Homo sapiens: one gene and its partner. The protein of the gene in region 2 interacts with the protein of the main gene of each other region in a pairwise test. Each region holds a gene or a part of one and is shown on either strand. Other genes may lie near its edges.

The links. The genes of interacting proteins can lie anywhere in the genome.
Region 1: the proteins of GARIN4 (region 2) and RAB2A interact in binary tests that used the Homo sapiens proteins (3 or more experiments, as listed by UniProt).

What each region holds. Positions count from the first base shown.
Region 1 is NC_000008.11:60,619,971-60,624,640, forward strand, and holds the end of RAB2A (ras-related protein Rab-2A), read left to right. Parts: intron 1-703; coding exon 704-799; 3' UTR 800-3,674; downstream 3,675-4,670.
Region 2 is NC_000001.11:212,622,202-212,628,002, forward strand, and holds GARIN4 (Golgi-associated RAB2 interactor protein 4), read left to right. Parts: upstream 1-2,272; 5' UTR 2,273-2,676; coding exon 2,677-4,461; 3' UTR 4,462-4,574; downstream 4,575-5,801. UniProt on the Homo sapiens protein: RAB2B effector protein required for the compacted Golgi morphology, probably through interaction with small GTPase RAB2B.

The DNA of each region.
Region 1 (4,670 bases), on a different chromosome or scaffold from region 2:
TAGTGCCAGAAACCCCAAGGCTACTACTGTTGCAGAACAACTGCCAAGCACTATAAATCTGAGATTTACTGTGACGTAAAGTTTCCTTAAGAGCTTAATTTCTGAAGCTACTGTATTACTTTTCTCAAAGTGTTGTATTTTTAGGTAAAATCCACTTGAGGGAGTGAGGGTTAAGACATAAGTGTGAGTTTGATGAATGAAAGAACTACTCTGTGTGTGGGTTCTTGGCAAGCTGCCATGTCTTTGGGGATCATAGAAATTATTGATGACACAGAACACTCATATGCCCTTAGCCTGTACAGCTGATTCAACATGGAACAGAAACACTGTCTAGAGAAAAGATTTTACGTTGTATTAAAGCAGCATGGGCTTTGGGTATTTTTATGCTTTAAAGATTACTTGCAATAATTATTTTAAATGATTTCTGCATTATGAGAATTTCCTGAAAAGCAGCATTATCCAATAACTGTTTACCCCGTACCTGGTATGATAAAGAATTATTTTCAGAAACATTTCCACAGTGTTTTTAAAAGGAAGGAACATCCCTTAGGAGATATTGTTTTAATTGTTGCTAAAATCTACTTGCTGTATTTTTCTCAGTTGTTTGATAAAATTGTATCATAAAGAATTAAATGAGTTTTTTAAGAATTAGTTAAACTATATTGTCTGGTCATATTTATTGTTCTGTTCTCTTTTATTTCAGGCAAATGGCATTAAAATTGGCCCTCAGCATGCTGCTACCAATGCAACACATGCAGGCAATCAGGGAGGACAGCAGGCTGGGGGCGGCTGCTGTTGAGTCTGTTTTTACTGTCTAGCTGCCCAACGGGGCCTACTCACTTATTCTTTCACCCCCTCTCCTCCTGCTCAGCTGAGACATGAAACTATTTGAAATGGCTTTATGTCACAGAAGACTTTAATCCGTCAAATTCTTGTATAACTTTGAATAAATGGTTAATGTTCACTTAAAAGACAGATTTTGGAGATTGTATTCATATCTATTTGCATTTGATTTCTAGGTCAATTGATGTGATTATTTTTGTTAAATGTTGTCTTGTGCCCTTAACTACGAACTGAATTGTATTAAACACTACAAAGTCATCTTGAGTATTTTAAATCGGTTTGTGTAGTTAGGTTTCCCAACATCTGTGGTTACCTAATGTTTAATATTATAGAACTGTCCTCAGAAACTTTGTCAATTTTCACGGCTATAAGGAAACAGAAGGACTCTTTTAATTCTGTATTTATCATTTACTTTCTGTATATATAGTTTAATAACCTGCTTGGGTGTAATTTGCCAAGCTTGAATTCTTTAATGCATTTGCATAAATTCTATACTGTTTAGAGCTTAAAGCTACAGAAGCATTGTTAGGAATTGCTTGGACACTGAATTTTAAACTTTTTGACATTGTTAACAAGCATGTTCATCTTTTCTTGTCACTAGTCCAAGAAAAATATGCTTAATGTATATTACAAAGGCTTTGTATATGTTAACCTGTTTTAATGCCAAAAGTTTGCTTTGTCCACAATTTCCTTAAGACCTCTTCAGAAAGGGATTTGTTTGCCTTAATGAATACTGTTGGGAAAAAACACAGTATAATGAGTGAAAAGGGCAGAAGCAAGAAATTTCTACATCTTAGCGACTCCAAGAAGAATGAGTATCCACATTTAGATGGCACATTATGAGGACTTTAATCTTTCCTTAAACACAATAATGTTTTCTTTTTTCTTTTATTCACATGATTTCTAAGTATATTTTTCATGCAGGACAGTTTTTCAACCTTGATGTACAGTGACTGTGTAAAATTTTTCTTTCAGTGGCAACCTCTATAATCTTTAAAATATGGTGAGCATCTTGTCTGTTTTGAAGGGGATATGACAATAAATCTATCAGATGGAAAATCCTGTTACAAAGTAGAAAAGCTTTAGTAATTTACTCAGTGTGGTGGTTTTATCCTTTTTTTCTTTTTCTCCCTTGGTCTATAATGAAATTGTTACAGCAGTGCAAAATAAAATCCTATGTATAAAAGTGTTCTTTTTTTTTATTATGACCACCTCTTTTTTAATGTATTTTTAGTCCACTTACAGCTTTTACATGGGTTTAAGCATGTTTTTTAAAAGGGTCAGAATGGTTAACACTCAACCCTTTTTAAAAATTTTGCTAAAATGCGACAAATCTCACCATACTGAAATTATTTTTGTTGATGGTGTAAGCAGTGTAAGCAAGTGTTTTCTCCTGAACTAGCACAAAAGCACTTATGCCTGAAAGAAAGCATAAAGAAGTTCTAACTCTGAAACTAACTACTTTCATTTCGCTCATGGCCTTCAACTTTCTACAGGTCTTCCCTGAAGATTCAGCAGTACTCTCTCAAAGGTTTGACAGTACTCTTGTGGGAAATCACCAAATGCTGTCATAGTTTTGTTTTAACTGTCTCCTTGAGGGCAGAGGGAAGGGTGAGAGAAAATCTGTTTTCATGGGTATTTGTAGTACAGCCTTTTTTTCTTTCAAGTGGCTGTATCAAATTCACTGGTCTTACTAATCACTGTCTTTACCAGTGAGTACAAAAAGTTAAGGCAACTAGGACAGGTACTGCTCTATACCAAGAAGAGAATGATTCTTTGGAAATTGTTATTTTTAAGCTTCTGTTAATTTTTCCAGAAGTTTAGTGCGTTTCTTTTCCATACTTTCTCCCCTAATTCTTTTATTTGAAGAAGAGAACTTAATGGCAAATAAACAACAAACCAGGACATGCATTTTAATACCCTAAGGAAAAATGGAACCCTCAAATATAACTCCTCCCACAACCACCCTAATGTGCCTCAGTCTGGGGCAGCAGGTGGACTTCTCAATAGTTCTTTTCCACATTCTCTACAAATCACATCTACCGTTAAGGAATATGTTATGAATCCTTTCTGTTAATTGAGAAAGCAATGTTATTGTCTGTGATTTCCAGTCTTTGCTCATTTTATTATCCCTGTCAAATAATGTAATATTGGTACCTGCAGTTGAATTTGTAATATTGTAATTGAATTTTTAGTTGATCTTCGATCAGTTTTTATAGCATCTATGGACATAGAAAATCAGTCACTGAAAAAAATAAACACAGCTTTCAATGTCTCACTCAACATGTAACATTCAAAATTGTGATCTTCATAAAGACATTGTTACCATTCGTCTTGCAAATTTAAGACAACTGAATGAAAAGCCAATTTTTTGAAAGAATGTGGCATATAATTAGATATACAACTGAAACAGGATATACAACTGCATACAATTTGTTTTTAATGATATTTTAAAATAGCCTGTTAGCAGGAAAATAGTCCCTATTTATCTGCTAATGGTCAAAAAGAGTTAGGATATAAATCGTACCAAAATGTTTCCAATCACTCAGAAAAACTGATTCATGTCTGGCTTTGCAACACCTTAAACATTTATTCTGTCATAGATAGTAAAGCCCCATCTCAGTTTATTTAGTCCTGAGGTTGGCAGCATGGGGTTTGACTATATGAGCTAAAAGATACACAAAGAGATAACGCTGTTTCATAATAAACAGGAATTGACTATACAAATAGGTAAACCAGCATATCTACCTGTATTTCTCAGAGTTTAGATGTGTGCTTTATGTTTACATTAAAATAAAGCCTAACGCCACAGTAGATCATCTCATACTGCATTCGGATGTACTAGGTATTATTATTTTTTGGTTGAAGTCACGACAGAGAACTTCATTTTATTTATTTTGTTTATTTTGGGAGACAGGTCTCACTCTAATCCCCCAGGCTGGAGTGCAGTGGCGCCGTCTTGGCTCACTGTGACCTCCACCTCCCCAGGTTCAAGTGATTCTCATGCCTCAGCCTCCCAAGTAGCTGGGATTAGAGGTCCCTGCCACCACGCCCGGCTACTTTGTATTTTTAGTAGAGACGGGGTTTTGCCATGTTGGCCAGGCTGGTCTCAGACTCCTGACCTTAGGTCATCTGCCCACCTCAGCCTCCCAAAGTGCTGGGGTTACAGGTGTGAGCCACCATGCCTGGCCAAAAACTAAGTGCCAGTCTATATATTAGTATTAATTAGTTTTACAAAATTATGAGGCCAATTCTTAAACATTGAAGGACAAAGCACCAAACTCCTGATAGAAAAATGGAGGAAAATGAGCAATTTACAAAAAACATACAAAGTGTCCCTAAAATGCATTTTTAATTCAAATGTGAGTGATGGATACATTAATTTGCTTCACTCTAGTAACCTTCTATTTATGTGTATCCCATAACAGGTATACTTTTAAACACAATAAAATTTATTTTTAAAAATTCAAACAAATGCAAATTAAAGCTCAGATGCCATTTCTCACCTATGAGACTGGAAGAAATGTAAAATACAACGCCACATTGTATTGGTGAGGCACCTTTGTGTGGTGTTGGTAGAAGTGCAAACTGGAACTACCTTTCTGGAGGGGAACTTGGCAATACCTAATAAAATTACATGTACACTTGCTGTTGGCCCAGAAATCCCACTTGTAGGAATCCGCCCAAATGATAATTCTCCAATAAAGCAAAAGCTCCATATGCACAAGGTTACTTTCTGCAGCATTGGTTGTAATTAGAAATTATTGGAAATGACTTATATGTCATTTCCACTTATAGTGATTCAATAAACTATAGTGATTCACTAA
Region 2 (5,801 bases):
TTTCAGAGTCAAGAGCTTTTAAAGGGTTCTGGCCCAGGACAGGAGTTCTGGAATGGAATCTTTCCACTTTCTGTTAACTAAAATACTATTTTCCATCTGTATCCTAATTTCTCCCCATGGGCTTTGAATAAACCCTCAACACTCCAACCCATATCAAGCTTTCTCCTCTCTTCCCTGTCCCGTAACCTCTGGTTGGGTTCATGTACTGTTTCTTTGTGGCGTGAACAGCGTTTCCAATTAGAATCTGCCTGAAAGGAGGTCCCATTTGCCCACTGAGCATCCTGTGTTCTCATGGTGGCTCTAACTCCAGAAGATTTTAACACAGTCTCATCAAACACTGCTTTCAGGGAGGAATTTACACTGAGGTTAAAAGGACTGTTGAGGACTAATGCTAACAGAAGCTAACATTTATTGCGTAGGACAATACACTAAACACTTCACATGTATTATCCCATTTAATCCTCACAACAACTGCTACCCCCATTTTACAGATGAGGGAGTGGAGAGCTCAGTAACTTGCTCGAGGTCTCACAGTGGATCTTTCCAAAGCTGAAGCCTATGCTTGTTTTCAACAGCAATGATTTCAAACAAGAGTATATACATTTGTGTGTGTGTGCGTGGTAAGATATACAAAAAATTTGCCATTGTAACTATTTTGAAGTGTACAATTCAGTGCCATTAAGTACATTCACAATGCAGTGTAACCATTACTATCTAGTTCCAGAACTTTTTCACTGTCCCCAAAGGAAATCCTGTACCCATTAAGGAGTCACTCTTCATTCCCCTTCCTTCCAGTCTCTGGCAACCACTAATCTGTCTTCTGTTTCTATGGACTTGCCTGCGCTGGATATTTTATGTAAATAGCATCATACAATATGTGGCCTTTCGCACAATACGGCTGGCTTCTTTCACTTAGCATAATGTTTTCAAGTGTCAGCCTAGCGTATTATGTAATAGTACCTTATTTCTCTTTATGGCTGAATAGTATTCTGTTGTATGGATACTATACTTTTTGTTTATCCATTCATCAGTTGATAGACAGGTGTGTGTATGTTAAGAAACAGCTAGCCTTTATCTTCAAGAACTGAATCTCTAAGGTAGGATTTCAGGCCTGATGTCAAGCTGGGAGAAAAGAGAGTTGGAAGCAGGTGCTCCTTTTCAGGACTTCCAGGTAACAGCTTGGAAATTACTTATTCCTGGGCTCGCTCTGTGGGCATGGCAAGGCAGGAGGTATAGTAGCACCTGTTCCCCATGGATGTAAATGGCTTCCAAAGTACTTCTGCATAGTAGAGAGGTTAGTAGAGGAGGGCCTTTGATAGGCTCCTGGAATGTAAGCTCACACTTTCCATCCTACCCTCTTCTCCCGGCATTTCACAGGGTAGGGGGTAAGAAGAGGCACGGGGCAAACACTGGGGGCCTTGAGAAAATATTTGGGCTCCCTGACACAGGATGTTGGTATAAACATGATGGAGGAGAAATAGAGGTGGCCCCTTGGATAATTTAATCCCCCACTCAGCCCAGCCCCTTTCTGAAGTGGTTGTCCTGGATTCTCCATAACATGCATGCATACACACACACACACACACACACACACACAGAATTAATTATGCAACTTATTTGGCTTGCCCAAGCTTTTTTTGTAAGTTCTGTAGTGGTTCAGAAGGAAGATTTTAAAAGCAGCAAGACCTGTATTCAAATAATACCTCCACTGCCTACGAGTTCTACAAATGCAGGTATGTTTCACAACTTCAGGTTTTTTTTACCTGTAAGATGAGAAGCGTTGCAATAGTATCAAACTGGAATGGAGTTTGATACATAGTATGGCGCCTAGAAGAAGCAATCTCTCATGTTATTATTAAAGGTTGAGGTTATTACTAAAGATTTCCATTGTCAGCATGAACTGAGATTTTATGGAAGAGTGGGCTAAGAACCAAGACTGCGAATTCTAGGTTAAAAAAAAATTTAAACCGTGTACTCAAATGGTTCAAATTTATCCCATCATCTTGCGTTCCTGTAGACTCTGCCTAGTTGCTGAATCTTTTGAATTTGGGGTGAGGAAGGGGAAGCAACCACACATTTTCTCATTTGAAAAATTTTTATTTTGGCACCCACTTGAGTACCTGGCACGGTGGGGCTGTCCTCTATGGGGGCAATGGAGTATTAGTGAGGGCATTGTGGCCCTGGCCTGGGGGATGAGAACAAAGGGGTATGTGACAGCAACAGGTCACAAAGGGAAGCAGAAGATAAATATGGCTGCACAGGGGGTTTAGGCAGAGAGGGTCGTCACTTCCTGTCACTAGGACTACAGTTTGTAGTCTCTCTCAGGGAGAGAGACTACAAACTGTAATTAAAAAAATCAGAGGTGGAGGTCAGGGGGTTAGGTCCAGAAGAAAACCTCTCTGGAGCCCACCCTGCATCTCTACGTCTTGGAAGAGTCTGGAGTCCAGGCACCCTACAGCACCCCCCACAGCAATCATCCGTGCTCCCACCCCCACCCCGGCCTCTGGGAGGCTCTGAGGCAACAGTGGGGGCCTGTGGGGTGGGGTGGGATTGAGAGACCAGCTGCAGAGACATCTTTGTGACCCAGGAGCACCACTGGTCCCTCATCTGCCACCGAGGCCAAGGAAGACCCAGAGACCTGCCTCACCAGTGCTGCCGTTGTGCTGAAAGACAACCATGAATGCTGATTTTCTGCTGCCGTATTATACGGCCCAGAGTGGCTCCAGCATGAGCATGTTCAACACCACCATGGGGAAACTGCAGCGACAACTGTACAAGGGGGAGTACGATATATTCAAGTATGCACCGATATTTGAGAGCGACTTTATCCAGATCACCAAAAGGGGAGAAGTGATTGATGTGCACAACCGTGTCCGTATGGTGACCATGGGCATTGCACGTACCAGCCCCATCCTCCCACTCCCAGATGTCATGCTACTGGCACGACCGGCCACCGGCTGCGAAGAGTATGCTGGACATGGCCAGGCCACCAAGAGAAAAAAACGCAAGGCAGCAAAGAACTTAGAGCTCACCAGGCTTCTGCCCCTGAGGTTTGTACGGATCTCTGTTCAAGACCATGAGAAACAACAGCTGCGCCTGAAGTTCGCCACTGGCAGATCTTGCTATCTGCAATTGTGTCCCGCTCTTGACACACGGGATGACCTCTTTGCCTATTGGGAAAAACTAATTTACCTCTTGCGGCCACCCATGGAGAGTAACAGCAGTACCTGTGGCATTCCAGCTGAAGACATGATGTGGATGCCTGTGTTTCAGGAAGACAGGAGGAGCCTGGGAGCCGTGAACCTTCAAGGAAAGGGGGATCAGGACCAGGTCAGCATCCAAAGCCTCCACATGGTCTCTGAGGTGTGTGGGGCCACCTCTGCTGCTTATGCTGGAGGGGAGGGACTCCAAAATGACTTTAACAAACCCACTAATGTGCTCAATGCATCCATCCCCAAAACATCTACAGAACTTGCTGAGGAGCCAGCAACAGGGGGGATTAAAGAGGCAGCAGCAGCAGGGGCAGCTGCAGGGGCAGCAACAGGCACCGTAGCAGGTGCCTTGAGTGTGGCAGCAGCCAATTCTGCCCCTGGACAGGTGAGCGCAGCCATAGCTGGGGCGGCCACCATCGGTGCAGGAGGAAACAAAGGCAACATGGCCCTTGCAGGCACTGCCAGCATGGCTCCAAACAGCACGAAGGTGGCTGTGGCAGGGGCTGCAGGCAAGTCCTCAGAGCATGTTTCCAGCGCATCCATGAGCCTTTCCCGAGAGGGCAGTGTGAGCCTGGCCATTGCAGGAGTAGTACTGACCAGCAGGACAGCTGCAGAAGCAGACATGGATGCAGCAGCGGGACCTCCCGTCTCCACCCGGCAGAGCAAGAGCAGCCTGAGTGGACAGCATGGAAGGGAGCGAACCCAGGCCAGCGCTGAAGGCTGCAAGGAGGGGAGGGAAAGAAGGGAAAAGGACAGGGCTCTCGGAAGGAGTTCCCATCGCCGCAGGACAGGTGAAAGCCGCCACAAAACAAGGGGAGACAAGATTGCCCAAAAGTCCTCCAGCAGGTCCTCATTCAGCCACAGAGCCAATAGAGATGACAAAAAGGAGAAAGGCTGTGGCAACCCGGGGAGCAGCAGGCACAGGGACTCGCATAAAGGTGTCAGCCACACGCCCATCTCAAAGGAGTCCAGGACCTCTCACAAATCTGGGAGGAGCTTATGGACCACCAGTTCCGGTTCCAGCAAGGGACTTGGCAGGGTCAGCTCTTTCCTGAGGAACGTCAGAGCCAACCTTACTACAAAAGTAGTGGGCACACCACATGGCAGAGATGTGAACGTCATGGCTAAGATGGCGGAGAGGAGCACCAACGTGGCCATCGCCGAGACAGCAGAGGGTGGCCAGGGGCTGGAGACGGTTGGTTCTATGACACCGGACATCATGGAGACAGTGACCTTTGAAGCCCATTAAATAAGACCCAGAGCTGGAAGCTGCAAAGGAGCCCAGAGCTCATGGGAGTGTCCCTGGAAAGCCTATTCCAGCGTTCTTTACTGCCGTTTAAATAAAGAATCATACATCTGAAAGTGGCTTGCTGGCTGAATTTTTGTGTCCCACAGCCCAGCAGTGACCTCACAGTGGATTCTGTGATGTCAACTGTGCTGCAGCCTGAGACCCCAGGATCCAGTCAAGGGTAGCCCCACCTCACACCCATGCTCAGCAGAGCCCAGATGAGTGCTCCAGCTTTCCTCAACCCCTTCCTGGCTTTGGTTCGCCAGGACTATGGCTGAAAGTCAGGCTGGGAGCTTGAAGCTCTACCTCCACCATCTCCCCATCCTTTTTATAAACTTGCCCCCTCCCAACCCTGGAAAATCCAAAGACGAAGCAAGAACAGAACTCTCACCCCCTTGCACTATTCATAGGAGGGAGTAAGGGAGCAGCAGCATGTGTTGGCAACCAGAACAGGGAGGAGCATTGTCTAGACTTAGCAATTCCACCCCTAAGTATACTCCCAAGAAACACACATGTTGCAGGAGACAGCCATGAGAATGTTTGTAGCAAAATAATACTGGAAACTGCCTAAATTTCCATCAACAGAATTGAGAGGGGTATATGCAGTGACAAATAAATGGCAGCTACACACATTAGCGTATTAGCATAGATAAGTTTTGCTCTTTCAAAAACTTTAAAAAGCAAATTGCAGAATAAGATATAATTCTACCTACAGGACAATTCAAAAACAAGATCAAATACAAATAATATGTTACATATTGGATACATGTTTGGTAAAACAAAACCAAGGGAGTGGGAAAAAATTCAGGACAGTGGTTTTCTCTGGGGTGGAAAGGCAAGAGATTGGATCAAGGAGGTGAACACAGTCTTTCAGTGGTGTTGGGAATTGTTTTAGTTCTTAAGGGAGGCGGTAGGTACAAGGCTGTTTATTATTTTGTTGGGTTTTGCATTTCAACATTGTGTTTTGCATTTTAATACCTCTGGAATCAGAATGGTCCTACAACCACCGTGGCAGTTCTGATGAAGTTATTGCTCCAGACATATATTCACCAATTCCTTCTCCTCAATGCTTTCATTTTTATGCATGCACAAAAGTGATCTAAGTCTGAAAGGCCCATTTTGTTAAGAATCACATGAGAATGACATTATTACCAAAAGCCTTGGGAAAGAAAGAATGATATCCCTATTTTACAGAAGAGGACACTGAGGCTCAAGAGGGTAACTTGCTCCAGTCACACAGAGGGACCTTTGCAGATCTACCAGCCCACTTCTTTATGCAAAGCCCTGTCTGAGACATGGGA